Regions from separate parts of the Homo sapiens genome. Here regions 2 and 3 are each linked to region 1. The links come from fine-mapping of genetic effects on gene expression. A gene starts in region 1. Each other region holds a variant in brackets. All regions are shown on one strand. Distances are between the middles of the regions.

Region 1 (5,764 bases):
CAGGCCTGGTGACTCAGAGGGTAAGGCACCGAGCCGAGGAAGAGAAAGGAGAACCTGGACTCCTGGGTGCCTTTGTCTCACCACACAATCACCTCCCAGGAAGGCTGTCATCCAATCACTCCTGTGGAATCTCTCTGCCACTTTGTTGTAAAGAAAGTCAGCCCCAGTGAAGGGTAAAAAGAAGTGCCAGAGGGCCTTGGGGACAAGCCATATACTGGTAGAAAGGGCACTGGGGCAGGGTCCGAACAGCTGAGAGTATGTCTAGCACCAGGATGAAAATCAGTAGTTCACAGAGCTGCTTTGTTTGACCTACTCCGTATTTTTTTAATGGTACATTTCACATAAAGACCTGTATATCTGGCTTCCCCACAAAAGTCAAGATCTGACAGCATCTGACTATATTTTCTCATGCAATATCTGAAGCTGGGTAGCAGCCAGCCCTGGATGGGGTGTTTCCTCTCCAGATTAACACAGAGCCTACCAACTTGTTAAATCTCACCTCATAGGACAATAGGCGCAAAAATATACTGAAATGAGTTGAAAAAATGGTAATACTTTTTTTTTTTGAGACAGAGTCTCACTCTGTCGCCCAGGCTGGAGTGCAGTGGCACGATCTTGGCTCACTGCAAGCTCTGCCTCCCAGGTTCATGCCATTCTCCTGCCTCAGCCTCCTGAGTAGCTGGGACTACAGGCACCCGCCACCATGCCCGGCTAATTTTTTTTTGTATTTTTAGTAGAGACAGGGTTTCACTGTGTTAGCCAGGATCATCTCGATCTCCTGACCTTGTGTTCCGCCCGTCTCGGCCTCCCAAAATGCTGGGATTACAGGCTTGAGCCACTGTGCCCGGTTTGGTGACACTTTTTTGATGAAAGTATTTTTTTTTAATTTAATTTTTTTGAGACAGATTCTTATTCTGTCATCCAGGCTGGATTGCAGTTAGCTCTCACTGCAACTTCCGCCTCCCGGGTTCAAGTGATTCTTGTGACTCAGCCTCCTGAGCAGCTGGGATTTTTTTATATTTTTAGCAGAGACGGGGTTTCGCCATGTTGGTAGACGGGTCTCCAACTCCTGGCTTCAAGTGATCTGCCTGCCTCGGCCTCCCAAACTGTTGGGATTACAGATGTGAGCCACCACACCCAGCCTCGATGAAAGTATTTTAGATGTTTGTATTTATACATAAGGCTCTATGTTTGAAGTACTAAATGGTGAGAGTATTTTGTATCTCAGATGGAATAACGATAGGAAAATGTTCTTCAGCAAATTGTACTCTCCTAAAGGGAGAGATTATAGAGTGATGAACACAGACACGCCATCTACCTTTCCTCCAGACTTTGTAAAAAAAAATTATATAAATTACAATCCCAAACTAGAATCAGATACCATCCCTGATCTACTACCAAGATCTATACACATTAAGAGAACAATGTTCGGGATTGAACCTGTTTTGCCTTTTTAATCGGAACACAAAAGGGATACCTTTTTCTTTCTCCAAGTTTTTGAAATTTTGGTCTCCCTCCTACATTCACTCCTTGTTGAAAGTAATGGAAAGGCAATTAGGTCTGTGTCCCAAATGAAAGCCCACAGTCAGGAGGGGATTCTCATTGAGGTGACTGTCCTGTTAAGACCTGCTCCTGTGAACCCCCAAGCACAGGGCAGAGCAGGACATGAACTAAGAGCCAGGCTTTGCCGAATCCGGGTCGAGTTCACCGACAGCAGTGTGTGCAGCACGCTTCCTCCTCTGCACCCTGGCAGTAGAGCCCTTCCTCATTGTAAAGCCAAGTGGTGTCTGCAGTCCGCCTTGCCCAGGGCTGGAGGCAGAGCTGAGCTTGGTGAACAGGTGCCAGGGGATTCCTGTCATCAGTGGACTATGCTTTAGAAGCTGCTTGTTGCAAAGGTACTGGTTGATCATTGTCTGAGAGTTGGATCTGAAGGCCAACACCCACTAGCAAAACCATCATCCCTGTAATAACAGCAACCCAAGCAGATTTGATTTCTCCAGTGAAGGTTCTAGATGAGTCTAATCAAGGCTTCCCACCCATCTTCTCCCAACACCAGAGTTTCCCTGTGAAAACGATCATGGTTAACTCGCACTGAATACTATTTATGTGCCAAGTACCATTCCACATTCTTTACATATTTTAGCTCACTTTACTCCAACGGGGACCATTATTCCCAGTTTGCACATAAGCAAATGGAGCCAGGGAAAGCAAGGGGCAGAACAGGGAACTGATTTCCCGGAGTTTCGGCCCAGAGTCAGTGTGCTTAGCCACCGCCAACACCAGCCCCAGAGCTCTAGGCTCCTGGAAGTCGTGCTCCCGAGTCCTTCCCCTTGCACAGTGGAGAGAACTCGATGTTGGAATGAAACCAGCTAATTCCAGTAGGGTGCTTCCGCTGTTGTGAGGAGCTGGGCAACTAGTAAGCTCACTGAGCCTCACTGTGCTCCACTATAAAACCAGGAGAGTGCGCAGCAGAGGAGAGGGTCTGGGTTTCAGAATAAGAAGCAGGTTTTCTTCCTGCTCAGCAAATCCTGGGTAATTGTATCATATCCCCTAACCCCTTAAACCTCAGCTAGAGAGGGCGCCAGTCTTAGCCCCAGGGAAGGCTTTCGTGTGCACATTGGAGACAAAGCCTGCCCAGCAGTGCCCGGCACAGAACTGGGGAGCTGTTGGGATAAGCATGGGGGTGGACTCTCCCTGGGACAGATCCTATCTCACAGCAGTTTGGAGAACTGTTGTATACACACGCAGGTGACACGAGGCAGAGCAGGATGTGAAACGAGCGCAGTGGTTTGCCAAACCCGCAGCAGGCTTAGGACGGAGTGGTGAGAACAGCCCCCTTCCTTTTCCTCAGCTTGACGGTCCCAGCCTTTCCCATTGCGGACCTAGAGCCCAGACTCCCAGGGCAGAAAGCGCCCCACAGACTGATAAAGGTGAACAATCCAGGCTTTGTTTCCAAGGGCTTTATCCCTGACTTTCCAACTGGCTTTTATCTGTGTCTTCACGTCTCTGACCTCTTGAGCCTCACAGGAGCTAGACTAGAAGGTTCAAGTTCTTGAGGAGAAGGCAGGGGCGGGAGAGCCCCACTTGCGGGAATCTCGTGCGGACCGAGTCGGGGCGGGAGAGGGCGCGCACCAGCCAGGCTAGGGCGCGCGGGGCGCCGAGGGGCGCGGGGCCGTTTGGGGCCGTTCGGGCCAGTTCGCGCGGCGGGGCCCGTCGGAGCTTTTCTCTCGGCAGCCTGGCTGGCCGCGCGTCTTCTCCGCGCAGCGGGCGAAGTCGCGATGGGTTCATTAAGGCGGCAGGTAGGCAGTGCCCCGGCGGCGGCTGCGGCAGGCGGTCCTGGAATGTGCGAGGGGCGTGATGACAGCGGCCAGCCTCTTTGCGCAACACCTTCGCCATATATACCCGGGGCGCTGCGCTCCACCTGGCCGCCGCCTCCAGCCCAGCACCTGCGGAGGGAGCGCTGGTGAGTACCGCCGCCGGGGCAGGGGCGCTTCCTCGCTCTTTCAAGGACTTTGATTCACTTAATTCTTGCAAATACCTCTCGGTGCTGACTTCAAGGAACTTGGCTGGCTTTGGGCCGCAGAAGTGAAAAACACAAAGCTCTCCACAATGTTCAAGTTGTTTTCTTCTTAATGTTACGGTTATTGCTTTTATTACAGCTTTTGCTGCTACACTCTTACGATCGACAGTGTTATTAATCAGCCACACTTGTGGATTCTAAAATGATCACTGTTTTGAGAGTCGTGGTTTGGAAGAGGAAAGGCCCAGGGGATAGAAATCTCCACCTAGGAATCAGGATAGCTAGGCTCTTTGTGGCTGGGTCACCAACTAGCCATGTGACAACGCTAGTCCCTGTGAGCCCCTGGGCTGCCGTCTTCCATTCTTTATAAGAAGGGGAATGCGACATCTCAGGACCATGAAAATTCTAGGTTTGTGGTGGCTGCCTGGTGATGTGACACTGCCCCCCACCCAAGTGTGACTTCCACGTGGTACAGTGCTTGTTTGCAGTTATTTAAGGTGCCTAGGAGACAGTCTTAGTTTGTTTCTATTAGGGCCCGTGGCCATCAGCGAAGGGTCCGTCCTTCAGCCGTCTTGGGGAGCAAAGCCCGCAATTTATGTTTTCCAAGCCACAAATGGGTGAGCAGGCTGGGGAGATAACTTACAAGGAGATGTGCACAGGAGTGGTTGGGTTCGGGGACTGCGCATCCTCAGGCCAGAAAGTTGGGGGCTGCATGGCATGGAGTTAGTTCAGGTTCCCTGCAACGGTGCCTGCCACCGGTGGCTCGCACTGCGCTGAAGAGAGTTGGAATCTCGTTTTCTTTGAGGAGGTCCCTTTTTCAAACATGTTGATTTCATGGAAGCAGCTTGTGGATTTCATCACTCGAGTCCCCTCTTCCTGTTTGGGTGCCCCAGGGGGTTTCTGTGTTAGCCCTGATCGCTCTGGGCCTTGTCGTTCTTTCCTTTTTCCTTCTTCCCTTGTGTGCTGGCAGTTCTTTAACTTGTCCTGGGTTGGGTATTCTTGGAAAACTGTGCTTGTAGGAGTGGCCGTTGTTTCAGATTGTTAAAGAAAAACAAAAATAAAAAAGATTGCCTCTTTTGTCCCATGCCCGCTGATCATGATCTTCTCTGCTTTTGTAATTTGGGGAATGGGTGATAAGAAAGGCGTGCTTTGTAAAAGGTTTGGATGCTAAACAAATTGCCCCATCCAAAACTCCCCAAATTGCTCAACTGTCTCAATGAAGCAAGTCCCCTGTGGTATGAGGATGGGCTTCTGATTGTTGCTGTTAGACACAAAGGGGACAAAAAAATAGCCCGAATTCAATGCAATGAGGAAAACAGCCTCACAGAATCAGAGTGCTTTGGAATAAACTGGGCTTTAGTAACCAGTTTCAGGCATCTTCCACTCCTCCATCCTCACCCACACCCCCACTTCCATTCTGGGGACCGCAGGGAGCAATCAGGACATCCCAGGGAATTTATTCATCTCAGTGAATTTTTAAAATGCAAAGGTACAAAAAGAGGGCTATAAAAAGATTGCGGTATTTTTAAGATGTTTATATTTACAAATTTAACTGCTTTAACCTCCCCCCCCAATACAATGCAGCACAACTGATATAGTTACAAGTTATTTACAGGATTTATTTTAAGATATCATAAATACAAATTGATAGTGCATGGTGAGGGTGTGGTTTGGTGATATGGCCCAAGTTTAAAGTTTATTAGTGTGCCACATCAAAAATGTAAACTCAAGTTATCTATCAATGTGAGGCCCAGGCCAATTGCTTCCTTGACTCCTCTCATCACTACCACCATTGTGTCCTTGAAGAGATTATTATTAGCAGTAATGTAGGGACAGGGTCTCACTATGTTGTCTAAGCTGGTCTCAAACTCACAGGTTCAAGGGACTCTCCCACTTTGGCCTCCCAAAGTGCTGGGATTATAGGTGTGAGCCACCACCCTTAGCCTATAGGGGTGATTATTTTTCCTTGTGATGGCTGTAAGGGAAGCAGAGGAAAAGGAGACGTCACCCTCTTGGGAATTTTTGAAGCACAGAGTCATTCTTTCAAAGTACAAGAAAGTTTTCCTGGGCATCCCGAGAACACTGGCCTGCATGAGGTTGAAATTATCTCTGCAGTGTTGTGGTGCCTATGTGATTTGAAGCCATTAACCTCTCTGTGGCTCAGTTTTTCCCTCTATAGAATGAGGATACTGTTCATTTTAAAGGAGACTCTAAGTTTACATAGATACATGAAATGCTGTGAGT
Region 2 (5,764 bases), 92 kb before region 1:
CACCTCCATTACTCTCAATGTCTGGGATGAGGACACAGTGGGACCCGGCCCTCCTGCCAAGACCCAATGGGTTACTGCTCTGACAGGGCAGAGGTCCCAACTCCTTTTATTATGATCATGGGGCAGAAATTGTGATGCCGTGGGGCCATGCAGTCACAACTCTTATGCCATTCAGACATCAAGGACAAGGGTTTTCCAGTTCTTTAATAGAAACAAACAAATCAAAGCAGAGTGATTTCTAAACAGAGAAAGAACCCTGATACGGAGTGCAAATCAAGGAGAGTGATTTCTAAACAAAGAGAGAGTCTTAACGTAGCGTGTGTGCGGGCAAGAAAAGACCATGGACGTCACGGGTTGTTACATATGCTCACTGGAGAAGGCAAAGTCACGGTGGGTGTGGTCATGGGAACCTAGGACTGTTGAAAGATTTTCCTGAGAGCTGTCCCTTCCCCTTGGGCAAGTTCCTCAACCTTTCCAGCTGAGGGATTTTTTTCCATCTGTATTTGAGGATAATAATATTTACCTTCTATGGTTCTTGGTAATGAATAGAGGTAATACGTGCAAAATGTTGGACAGAGAGTAGGTATTTAATATTAATAATAGTGATAATAATGTAGTAGCTACCATTTATTGAGCAGCTATTCTGTGCATGCTCAAGCAACCTTATAACCTCATTCCATAGGCACTTTTTTTTTTTTTTAAGACAGAGTCTGGCTCTGTCACCCAGGCTGGAGTACAGTGGCATGATTTCAGCTCACTGCAGCCTCCACCTCCCATATTCAAGTGATTATTCTGCCTCAGCCTCCTGAGTAGCTGAGATTACAGGTGCCTGCCACCACACCCGGCTAATTTTTGTATTTTTAGTAGAGACAGGGTTTTGCCATGTTGGCCAGGCTGGTCTCCAACTGTTGACCTCAAGTGATCCTCCCGCCTCAGCCTCCCAAAGTGCTAGGATTACAGGCATGAGCCACCGCACCCGACCAGCACTCTTGTTAGTTCTATTTTACAAACTCAAAAATGGAGTGTTAAAGAAATATGTTTCTGCAAAGAATAGGTGGCAGGTAAAAAAAAAAGATAAAATAAAAATAAAGGAATATGTTTCTACCCAAGCCATACAGAGAGAGAGTAGAAAGGATTCAGGCCAAAGGTTGGATGCCTGACTCAAGAACCCAGTTGTTAAATTCTTTTATTTTTTAATTTTATTTTTAAATTTATTTTATTTTTAAATTTTATTTTATTTATTTATTTATTTATTTATTTACTTACTTACTGAGACGGAGTCTCGCTCTGTCACCCCGGCTGGAGTGCAGTGGCGCGATCTCAGCTCACTGCAAGCTCCACCTCCTGGGTTCACTCACTCCATTCTCCTCCCTCAGCCTCCCGAGTAGCCGGGACTACAGGCACCTGCCACCATGCCCGGCTAAATTTTTTTTGTATTTTTAGTAGAGACGGGGTTTCACAGCGTTAGCCAGGATGGTCTTGATCTCCTGACCTCGTGATCCACCCGCCTTGGCCTCCCAAAGTGCTGGGATTACAGGTGTGAGCCATTGTGCCCAGCCTAAATTCTTTTCTTTTTTTAATTTGTTTTTTGAGACTGAGTCTCGCTCTGTCGCCCAGGCTGGAGTGCAGTGGCATGATCGTGGCTCACTGCAACCTCCACCTTCTGGGTTCAAGCAATTCTCCTGCCTCAGCCTCCCAAGTAGCTGAGACTACATGTGTGCACCACCATGCCAGGCTAATTTTTGTATTTTTAGTAGTAACAGGATTTCACTATGTTGGCTAGGCTGGTCTTGAACTTCTGACCTCAGGTGATCCACCTGCCTCGGCCTCCCAAGTGCTGGGATTACAGGCATGAGCCACCACACCTGGCCTTAAGTTCTTAATTGCTTCATTTGATGTCTTTTCAAGTAAGTGAAATAGACACATATTTTTCAAATAAAAGTATATATAAAATATATATGTTTTAAGTTAAGTGAAAAAATACATATATTACAATTTTCCAAGTAAGTGAAATATATACAGTCATGTGCTACATAACAACATCTCAGTCAACAATGGACTGCATATATGATTGTGGTGCCATAAGATTATAATACTGTATTTTCATGGTACCTTTTCTATGTTTAGATACACAAATACTTCCCATTGTGTTACAATTTCCTATGTTTAGATTCATAAATACTTCTTATTGTGTTACAGTTGCCTACAGTATTCAGTACAGTCACATGCTGTACAGGTTTGTAGCTGTACCATATATCCTAGGTGTGTAGCAGGCTACGCCATCTAGGTTTGTGAAAGTACACTCTAGGATGATCACACAATGATGAAATTGCCTAATGATGTGTTTCTCTCTCTCTCTTTTTTTTTTTTTTTGAGATGGAGTCTCACTCTGTCACCTGGGCTGGAGTGCAGTGGTGCAGTGGCGCGATCTCGGCTCACTGCATCCTCCACCTCCTGGGTTCAAGTGATTCTCCTGCCTCAGTCTCCTGAATAGCTGGGATTACAGGCATGCACCATCACACCCAGCTAATTTTTGTATTTTTAGTAGAGAGGGGTTTCACCATGTTGGCCAGGCTGGTCTCAAACTTCTGATCTCGTGATTTGCCTGCCTTGGCCTCCCAGAGTGCTGGGATTACAAGCATGAGCCACTGTTCCTGGCCTCAAGCGATTGTCTTGCCTCAGCCTCTTTAGTAGCTGGAACAACAGGCAC[G/A]TGCCAGCATGATTTCGCCATGTTGCCCAGGCTGGTCTCGTGACCTCAAGTGATCTCTCTGCCTTGAGCTCCCAAAGTGCTAGGATTACAGGCATAATCCACAGCACCTGGCCTGAGTACTCTATTTAAAATGCACTCCTCTCCTGTTACTCTTGCTATGGTTTTGTTTACCTTCATAGCAATTAGCCTCACCCGAAGTATCATATTCTACTCATGACTCCTCTGATGTAAGCTCCATGAGGCAGGGGCTGTATTTGGGCCTTTGCTTGTTCCCAGTGCCTGGCATGGAGTTATCTCTAAGTAAATATTTGTTGAATGTCTGGACGTGGTGGTGCATGCCTGTAATTCCAGCACTTTGGGAGGCTGAGGTGGGAGGATCACTTGAGCCCAGTAGGTTGAGGCTGCGGTGAGCCGTGACGACGCCACTAAACTCCAGCCTGAACAACAGAGCAAGACCTCATCTCAAAAAAATTTTTTTATTGTTGTTGAATGAATGCTTGGAGAGCCAAAGGAGCTGATTTAACCCTTCAAAGGCATTAGATCAAACAGGCAGGGCCAGTTTTTCAGATCTGAAAGGGTGTCCAGGAGCTCTTCCCTCTTTCCAGCCCCTCAGTTCAGTTTTCTGGAACAAGAAGGCAACACTACATTTGGATAATCACAGCTTTTTCTCAAAGGCTTTTGACCCTGCAGTTGGTTTTTTGTTTGTTTGTTTGTTTGTTCTGAAACGGCATTTGGCTCTTATCACCAGGCTGGAGTACAAGGGCGTGATGTCGGCTCACTGCAACCTTGGCCTTCCAGGTTCAAGCAATTCTCTTGCCTCAGCCTCCCCAGTAGCTGGGATTACAGGTGTGTGCCACCACGCCCGGTTAATTTTTATATTTTTAGTAGGACAGGGTTTCACTATGTTGGCCAGGCTGGTCTTGAACTCCTGACCTCAGGTGATCTGCCTGCCTCGGCCTCCCAAAGTGCTGGGATTACAGGTGTGAGCTACCATGCCCGGCCAAACATCTTTGATCTCTGACAATCCACCAGACCATTCTGACTACCTGCCCACCTAGTAATTTGTTATTTCCTCCCTTCCTTGATTGTCTCCCCCCCGTTACCAATTAATACCATATTTATTAATTTCCTGCTATGAATATGACACTATCTGCCGATGCTTTATTAAAATGTAAAATGACTCTTCCTCCTCAAGTAGGGTAGAGGCAGTATAGTTTAGTGGTTAAGGCGGATAAGGATACTGATTGACTGAAAGTCTGGGTTCAAACCCTCTTTTTGTTTTGTTTTGTTTGAGACAGGCTCTTGCCCTGTCACCCAGCCTGGAGTGCAGTGGCACTAACACAGCCTGGGTTCAAGCAGTCTCCCCCCTTGGCCTCCCAAAGTGTTGCGATTACTGGTGTGAGCCATTGCACCTGGCTCAAACCCTCTTTTTACTACTTACTAGCCATGTGACTTGTACAAGTCACCTAAACTCCCTAAGCCTCAGGTTTTTTTGTTGTTGTTGTTTTTGTTTTTTTAGATGGAATCTCGCTCTGTCACCCAGGCTGGAGTGCGGTGGCAAGATCTCGGCTCACAGCAACCTCCGCCTCCCAGGTTCAAGCAATTCTCCTGTCTCAGCCTCCCAAGCAGCTGGGATTACAGGCACATGCTGGCACGCCTGGCAAATTTTTCGTATTTTAGTAGAGATGGGGTTTCACCGTGTTGCCCAGGCTGGTCTCAAACTCCTGAGCTCAGTCAATCCACCTGCCTTGGTCTCCCAAAGTGCTAGGATTACAGGCGTGAGCCACCGCGCCTGGCCCAGCCTGTTTTTAATCTCAGAAATGGAGATGACAACAGTACCTACTGCTGGGGAACCACGAGTTTGTTACAGTAAGCTACCAGGGCCGTGCTCGGCACAATGCTACCACTAGATGACCTTTCATGGCTAACATAGAATCGTATCGTGTGCCCGGCTCAGTGGCTCATGCCTGTAATCCCACCACTTTGGGAGACTGAGACGGGTGGATCACATGAGGTCAGCAGTTTCAGACCAGCCTGATCAACAAGGTGAAACCCCGCCTCTACTAAAAACACAAAAATGAACTGGGCATGGTGGCGCATGCCTGTAATCCCAGCTACTCGGGAGGCTGAGGCAGGAGAATCAATCGAACCTGAGAAGAGGAGGTTGCAGTGAGCTGAGATTACACCATTGCACTCCAGCCTGGGCAACAGGGGCGAAATTCTGTCTCAAAAAATAAAAAATAAAAAAGAATCATATTGTGAAGAGTGTCGATGCATCGATAAAAACTGAAATAACAATACGTGGATTGGGTGACTCAGTGCAGTATTTATACACACATGTGGACACAGGGGACATCCTGGTATAATGGAAAGAGCATGTGTTCTGGAACCATGCTGACCTGTGCAGGAGTGCCCACTCTAGCTTTTGCTAGCTGTGAGATCTTGAGACCTCCCTCACCCACAGTTTCCTTGTTTGCATAACATGGACCTGAATTTTTGCTTATCAGAGTATTTGTGAAGATTTAACAAGATGCTCATTTCCTTCCCTATGAATGTCTATTGCTGTTTAGAAATCCTGATGAAAAGGCAAAGACCGTTCTGATTGACTTGGGAAGTGGGTATGAAGTCAATACCTCACTTGGCTAATCAGAAAGATTCCTTTCAGTGAACGGGATTAGAGTTTTGATTGAAAAAAAAGCTACCGGGTGCAGTGGCTCATGCCTGTAATCCCAACACTCTGGGAGGCCAAGGCAGGCAGATCACCTGAGGTCAGGAGTTCGAGACCAGCCTGGCCAATTGGTGAAACCCCATCTCTACAAAATATTCAAAAATTAGCTGGGCATGGTGGCATGTGCCTGCAGTTTAGCTACTTGGGGGGCTGAGGCATGAGAATTGCTTGAACCTGGGAGGCAGAGGTTGCAGTGAACCAAGATTGTGCCACTGCACTCCAGCCTGGACAACAGAGCAAGACCCTGTCTCAAAAAAAAAAAAAGAAGGAAGGAAGGAAAGAAAGAAGCTAAAGAAAAATTGTTCTATCAAAACAGAATAAAAGAG
Region 3 (5,764 bases), 120 kb before region 1:
TTTTTAATGGTTGCATTCCATTTTGTGGATATATCAAAATGTGTTTAACAACGAAATAGTGTAATCTGCTTTCCACTTAATATTTTCCATGGTTTGTGGACATTTAAGATTCATAAATCTTGCACAGATTTTTGTGCCGCAGGAAGGAGATGCCAGAGCTTGCCTACTTATCACTTGTTGAGCACTGAATCTCTGACCATTGACAGGACTGTCTGGCTCACAGTTGTTTATGGGCAAAGAAGTGATTCTGAAAGTAAACAGGGAAAGAAACAAAAGTCCCTGATTAGGCCAGGAGCGGTGGCTCACGCCTATAATCCCAGCACTTTGGGTGGCCGAGGCAAGTGGATCACTTGAGGCCAGGGGTTCAAGACCAGCCTGGCCAACATGGCGAAACCCCATCTCTACTAAAAATACAAAAAATTAGCCGGGCATGGTGGCACACACCTGTAGTCCCAGCTACTCGGGAGGCTGAAGCAGGGAGGCAGAGGTTGCAGAGAGCCACCATTGCACCACTGCACTCCAGCCTGGGCAACAAAACAAGATCCCGTCTCAAAAAAAAAAAAAAAAAAAAAGAATTAGCTGGGAATGGTGGCCTGAGCCTGTAATCCCAGCTACTCCAGAGGCTGTGGCAGGAGAATCGCTTAAACCCAGGAGGTGGAGATTGCAGTGAATAGAGGTACCACACCACTGCACTCCAGCCTGGCGACAGTGTGAGATTCCGTCTCAAAAAAGAAAACAAAAAAAAAAGTCCCTAATAAGACTTAAAATCTCTAAAACATAAGTTTAATTCCTTATTTTTATCATTCACTCAATTATCACTCATTCATTTTATACTATTTACAGCTAGACATATCTGGGCTTTTGACTCAGCTCTGTCACTTACCAGCTGAGGGACTTTATGCCAGTGACTTGTTTCTCTTGGCCTGTTTTACCATCTGTAAAATGGGTAATAATGCCTGTCCGGGTTGTTAAGAGATTAAACTTAAGTGCATGAAGCACCTTTCCCATCTGACCTTTGAATCTCCTCTCTTCTGTTGGTTGAGCAACATGGCAGGCTTGACTGAATTATCCACACAGTGGCCTGTAATTTGGCTTTGTTGATGAGTGGATGAAGACACAGAGAATGCAACTGGTGGAAAACAGAGTGGCTTACGAGCTCAGAACTGGAGCCAGAAGAAGAACACGGGCCTTTGTTCCTTCCAGTGGTCTAACATGTCTCGTTAGGTCTTCTGCCCAGTGGAGTTCAGAAAGCCATGCAAGCACATCTCACTCTTCACCATGTTTTTGTGTGGGAGTGGTCAAACATCATTTCAATTTCAGAGCTGCACTTAGAAAAATGACCATTAAGACTCTTACCTTTTTCCCCTGTAACTTCAGCAATGCTTCTTAAAGAGTTTTCATTTTTGTCTAGTCGCTACTTTCTCATTCCTCCCAGTGCTTTCCTCTGGGTCTAAGAATGAAGGAAGAAGCCCTTTTGAGGTCTCCAGCACTAACCATGTCACCTCAGTGAATTCCATGGGCCATTAGGCAGCCAGTCAGCAGCATGTATGTCCTTGCTATCAGCAGGACATGGAATATGGGGGAGGAGAAGTCATTTCTCTCCTGCTGATTCAACATTCATTAACGTGTTAGCAACAGAGGGGGCATTGTTAACTGCAGCTCCCATCTGAACTACAGACTTCCTAGAAAGATTAATGCTATCTTCAATATGAAACAACAACAACAACAAAATGGTTACAACCAGTCCTTTCAGAAAAGCAGGCAAAGATGTGCTGTTTTACTCCTCCCAGACCCCTTGCTTCTCCTATTTCGACCACATTTGAAAAAGGATTTCTCTGTTTCAACCATGAATAATACTCTATTGTCCAGCACATTGCAGCGACTTAATTTCCTTTGTGCATGGACCTTTTTGACAACCAGTAGGCACTGGAGAAACTAATACCATCCAGGGTCCATCATCTTCTTCCTCTTTTTTTCCTTTTTCGAGATGAAGTTTTGCTCTTTCACCCAGGCTGGAGTGAAGTGGTGCAATCTCAGCTCACTGCAAACTCTGTCACCCCCACCCGCCCCGGTTCAGCGATTCTCCTGCCTCAGCCTCCTGGGATTACAGGTGCCCACCACCGTGCCTAGCTAATTTTCATATTTTTAGTAGAGACAGGGTTTCTCCATGTTGGTCAGGCTGGTCTCCAACTCCTGACCTCAGGTGATCCGCCCACCTCGGCCTCCTATAGTGCTGGGATTACAAGCATGAGCCACTGTGCCAGGACTCCATCATCTTCTTTACAGTGAAGTCCAAATGGTCTCAACTTCCTCACTTCTTTACTTACCTCTTAATCCCCTGCCATTTAGGGTTGGCCCTTGACACTGCCCTGAGCCTGTTCCTGCCAAGATCACAATGTCAATAAACGCTGTGGTCACTCTTCTGCCCTCCTCTTCCCTGACCTCCCTATGGTGTTACCCAACCTTCAGCCACTTTCTGCCTCTTGAAAAGTTCCATTCCTCAGCTTCCTGGTCTGCAAATATTCCTCTTTCCTCTTGCATTTTTGGCACTTCCTTATCACTCTTCCTGGGCTCTTCTTTTCTCTGCCAACTCTTCAGCTCAGATGTTGC[C/T]GAACATTTTCTTTTTTTCTTTTTGCAGTGGAACCTTTTTTTTTTTTTAAACAAATGAGATTTTATGTATATTCGAACCCAATATAAAACACAGAAAACCACAGTTGCTATGGTTGAAATCATGGGTGGCACTTTCCCTCCTCTTATCTCCTCTCCCAGAATCCCCAAGAGCTCCTCTCCAGAATCCTGGGCCTCTGAGAAGCCACAGCCTATGTGATGAGGTTCTATGTGGGTCTTTACGCCTCACTCCACTCATGCATCCTGGATGGCCCCAACCCTCCTGGCGTAACAATGACTATCCTTTTCTCCAAATGTGCTGTGTGTGGAGGGGCAATAAACAAATGCTCTTTTCTTTCTTCAATGCTTCTTTCAAGCATTTGAAAAATGAGAGGAGGCAGATGGAGAGCGAAAAATGTCAGCTTTATTGCTGACAAAGCTGCGTAGAGAATGTCTTTACATAATTAGCCTAATGGGTTTGCTATCTTTCCTAGAGTTAACTCTCCCATCAGTCCTGGGCAGAACTGGAATTCCCAGGCATTTATACAGAAGAGATGAGGTTCTCCCAAACTCACCAATCAAAAGTCACTCCTTCTCCCATGGGGAAGAGTGGGCACAGAGACCAGGAACACTAACCTCAGCCAACAACGATGGCTCCACTCCCTGGGGGTGTCTTGTGGTTTGTGAGGCACTGAGGCATTTAGTGTACGGGGAACTGTGATACCAGGCATCCTCAAACACACAGAACAACTCAACACATGAAAGAATTGTCCAGGTGCAGTGGCTCACACCTGTAATCCCAGCACTTTGGGAGGTCGAGGCAGGTGGATCACCTGAGGTCAGGAGTTCAAGAGCAGCCTGGCCAACATAGTGAAACCCCATCTCTACAAAAGTATGAAAATTAGCCAGGCAGGATGGCGGGTGTCTGTAATCCCAGCTACTCAGGAGGCTGAGGCAGGAGAATCACTTGAACCGGGGAGGCAGAGGTTTGAGTTGAGATCGCACCATTGCACTGCAGCCTGGACTACAGAGTGAGACTCTGTCTAAAAAAAAAAAAAAAAAAAAATTCTCCTGAATCTTGCATGACCTTTGAACATCTGATCGGACATTCCATACATAGGTGAATGAGGATATAATTATCTGTATCTAGGCTGGATGCCATGGCTTATGCCTGTAATCCCAGCACCTTGGGAGGATGAGGCAGGGGGATCACCTGAGGTCAGCAGTTCAAGACCAGCCGGGCCAACATGGTGAAACTCCGTCTTTACTAAAAATAAAAATTAGCTGGGTGTGGTGGTGCACGTCTGTAATCCCAGCTACTCAGGAGGCTGAGGCAGGAGAATCACTTGAGCCTGGGAGGCGGAGGTTGCAATGAGCTGAAATCGTGCCACTGCACTCCAGCCTGGGCGACAGATTGAGACTCCGTCCAAAAAATAAATAAATAAGTAAATATATATATGTATATATAAAATCTGTTTCTAGAACATTAATCTATTTTTACATACTGAAAGTACTTTTTGCACAGTTTTTTTTCTTTTCTTTTCTCTTTTTTCTTTTTGAGACAGAATGTTACTCTGTCTCCCGGGCTGGAGTGCAGTGGCGCAATCTTAGCTCACACTGCAACCTCTGCCTCTCGAGTTCAAGTGATTCTGGCACCTCAGCCTCCTGAGTAGCTGGGATCACAGGTGCGAGTCACCAGGCCTGGCTAATTTTTGTATTTTTAGTAGAGATGGGGTTTGGCCATGTTGGCCAGGCTGGTCTCAAACTCCTGACTTCACGCGATCCACCTGCCTCGGCCTCCCAGAATGCTGGGATTACAGGCATGAGCGACCGTGCCCTGCCTTTTACAGTTTTTATACGCACTATATACTGAATTTTCTAGAAAAGCAAATACTACACAAATTGAACGCTGATTATACTTTCATAGATTGAGAACTTACCTGAGGGTTGTTCAATAATTTAGAAAATTATGAAATTTTCTGATGACAACGGCTCCTGTAGTATTTTCACCATTAATGCAATAACACATTCCTGTATTGGTTGGTATCCGTGGCTGTTGCACTTACAGTGAGAACATCTGACTGCTCCTTTGTGGCTTCCGGTAAACTTCCACCCAAATATTGCTCAGATGCATGCAGATCCCTGCAGGCGCCATGGTTCTCTTTCCCCCTGGCCTTTGCACTTCCTGTGCTTCCTGCACTTATCTGAGGAGTGTCCCTGAGTATGAAGGAAGAGTACCTCCTCTAGGTTTCCAGAGTGTTGCTCACTCTGCATCTGAGTCTCTGTCTGTCTGCTGCCTCTGCCACCAGACCTTAAGTTCTGCCAGGGTAAGGACCCATGCACACTGCTGGCTTCTGCATCCCTAGTGCCTGACCCAGGTTCAGGCACACGATAAGCAACCCTTCCCTCGATATATATCTTCGCATCAAGATAAATAGCATCTATTTGAAAAGCTATAAATCTCTGGTCCATCAGGAACTAATGGTGGAATCTTCCCATCAAAGTCAATCGCAGGCAAACTAAAGGTGAAATAAAGGTCTCAGCAAAAAGGAAATTTTTCCTCCCAAGATGATCTTAGGAGGCCTTGTCTTTCATTCTTTAGTGTTTCTGCCAGAAAATCAATTGTTAAATTATTCATTGAGTCAGATCAGGTCATTTTGAAAGTAATCTTCAGAGTGAGTGAATCTTTATCAAAGTTGACACTATTCCTGATATCTGAACAGATTAGTTTTATAATTTAATACTTAATCTGTCCACAAAACACAATGAGAAAAAAATGCTGCAGTAACCTGGGTATTGAAGGACTCGCCTTCTTGATTGTTTTTATTCTCTTTTTACCTTATCAGGTGAATAAAACTTGAAAGTAATAAAAAGAGACTCATAAAACAATGCTCATTTTGATTTACACTTCTAACCCCTTAATTATCAGCAGCTTAACTGTCTCTCCTGATTTCCATCTGACTTCAGGCTGAGCGACAGGGTGCACTCATTGACTCAGAGACACTGGCAGGGGTCATAGAGGTTATCCGTATCTATAAGTCAGACCAGGTGAGTTCAAAGTCACCAAGGTGAAGCTGCATGCATGGGTTCTGCTCTTGACTCCTTAGTTTGTGGCCTTGGAGAGGCACCCCCTCTCAGAACTTCCTTTTCTTTCTTT

Evidence for each region. PIP is the estimated chance that this variant, and not a neighbour inherited with it, causes the effect.
Region 2: its variant is the best candidate, but not a certain one, in a credible set for the expression of SLC34A2 in nasal epithelium (TOPMed, PIP 0.85).
Region 3: its variant is the best candidate, but not a certain one, in a credible set for the expression of SLC34A2 in lung (TOPMed, PIP 0.58).

The regions. Positions count from the first base shown.
Region 1 is chr4:25,652,428-25,658,191 of GRCh38, forward strand. It overlaps SLC34A2 (solute carrier family 34 member 2), which reads left to right and starts at 3,424. Exons shown (of 13, transcript NM_006424.3): 1 at 3,424-3,463. RefSeq lists an enhancer at 2,874-3,787.
Region 2 is chr4:25,560,440-25,566,203 of GRCh38, forward strand. The region is part of intron 1 of LOC101929161 (a long non-coding RNA gene); the gene reads right to left. Among named protein-coding and RNA genes, the nearest start is that of SLC34A2, 93 kb to the right of the region's middle. The variant G/A (reference allele first, on the strand shown) is at 2,711.
Region 3 is chr4:25,533,834-25,539,597 of GRCh38, forward strand. LOC101929161 (a long non-coding RNA gene) reads right to left here. Exons shown (of 4, transcript NR_134641.1): 3 at 1,357-1,450. Among named protein-coding and RNA genes, the nearest start is that of SLC34A2, 120 kb to the right of the region's middle. RefSeq lists an enhancer at 1,392-1,932. The variant C/T (reference allele first, on the strand shown) is at 2,611.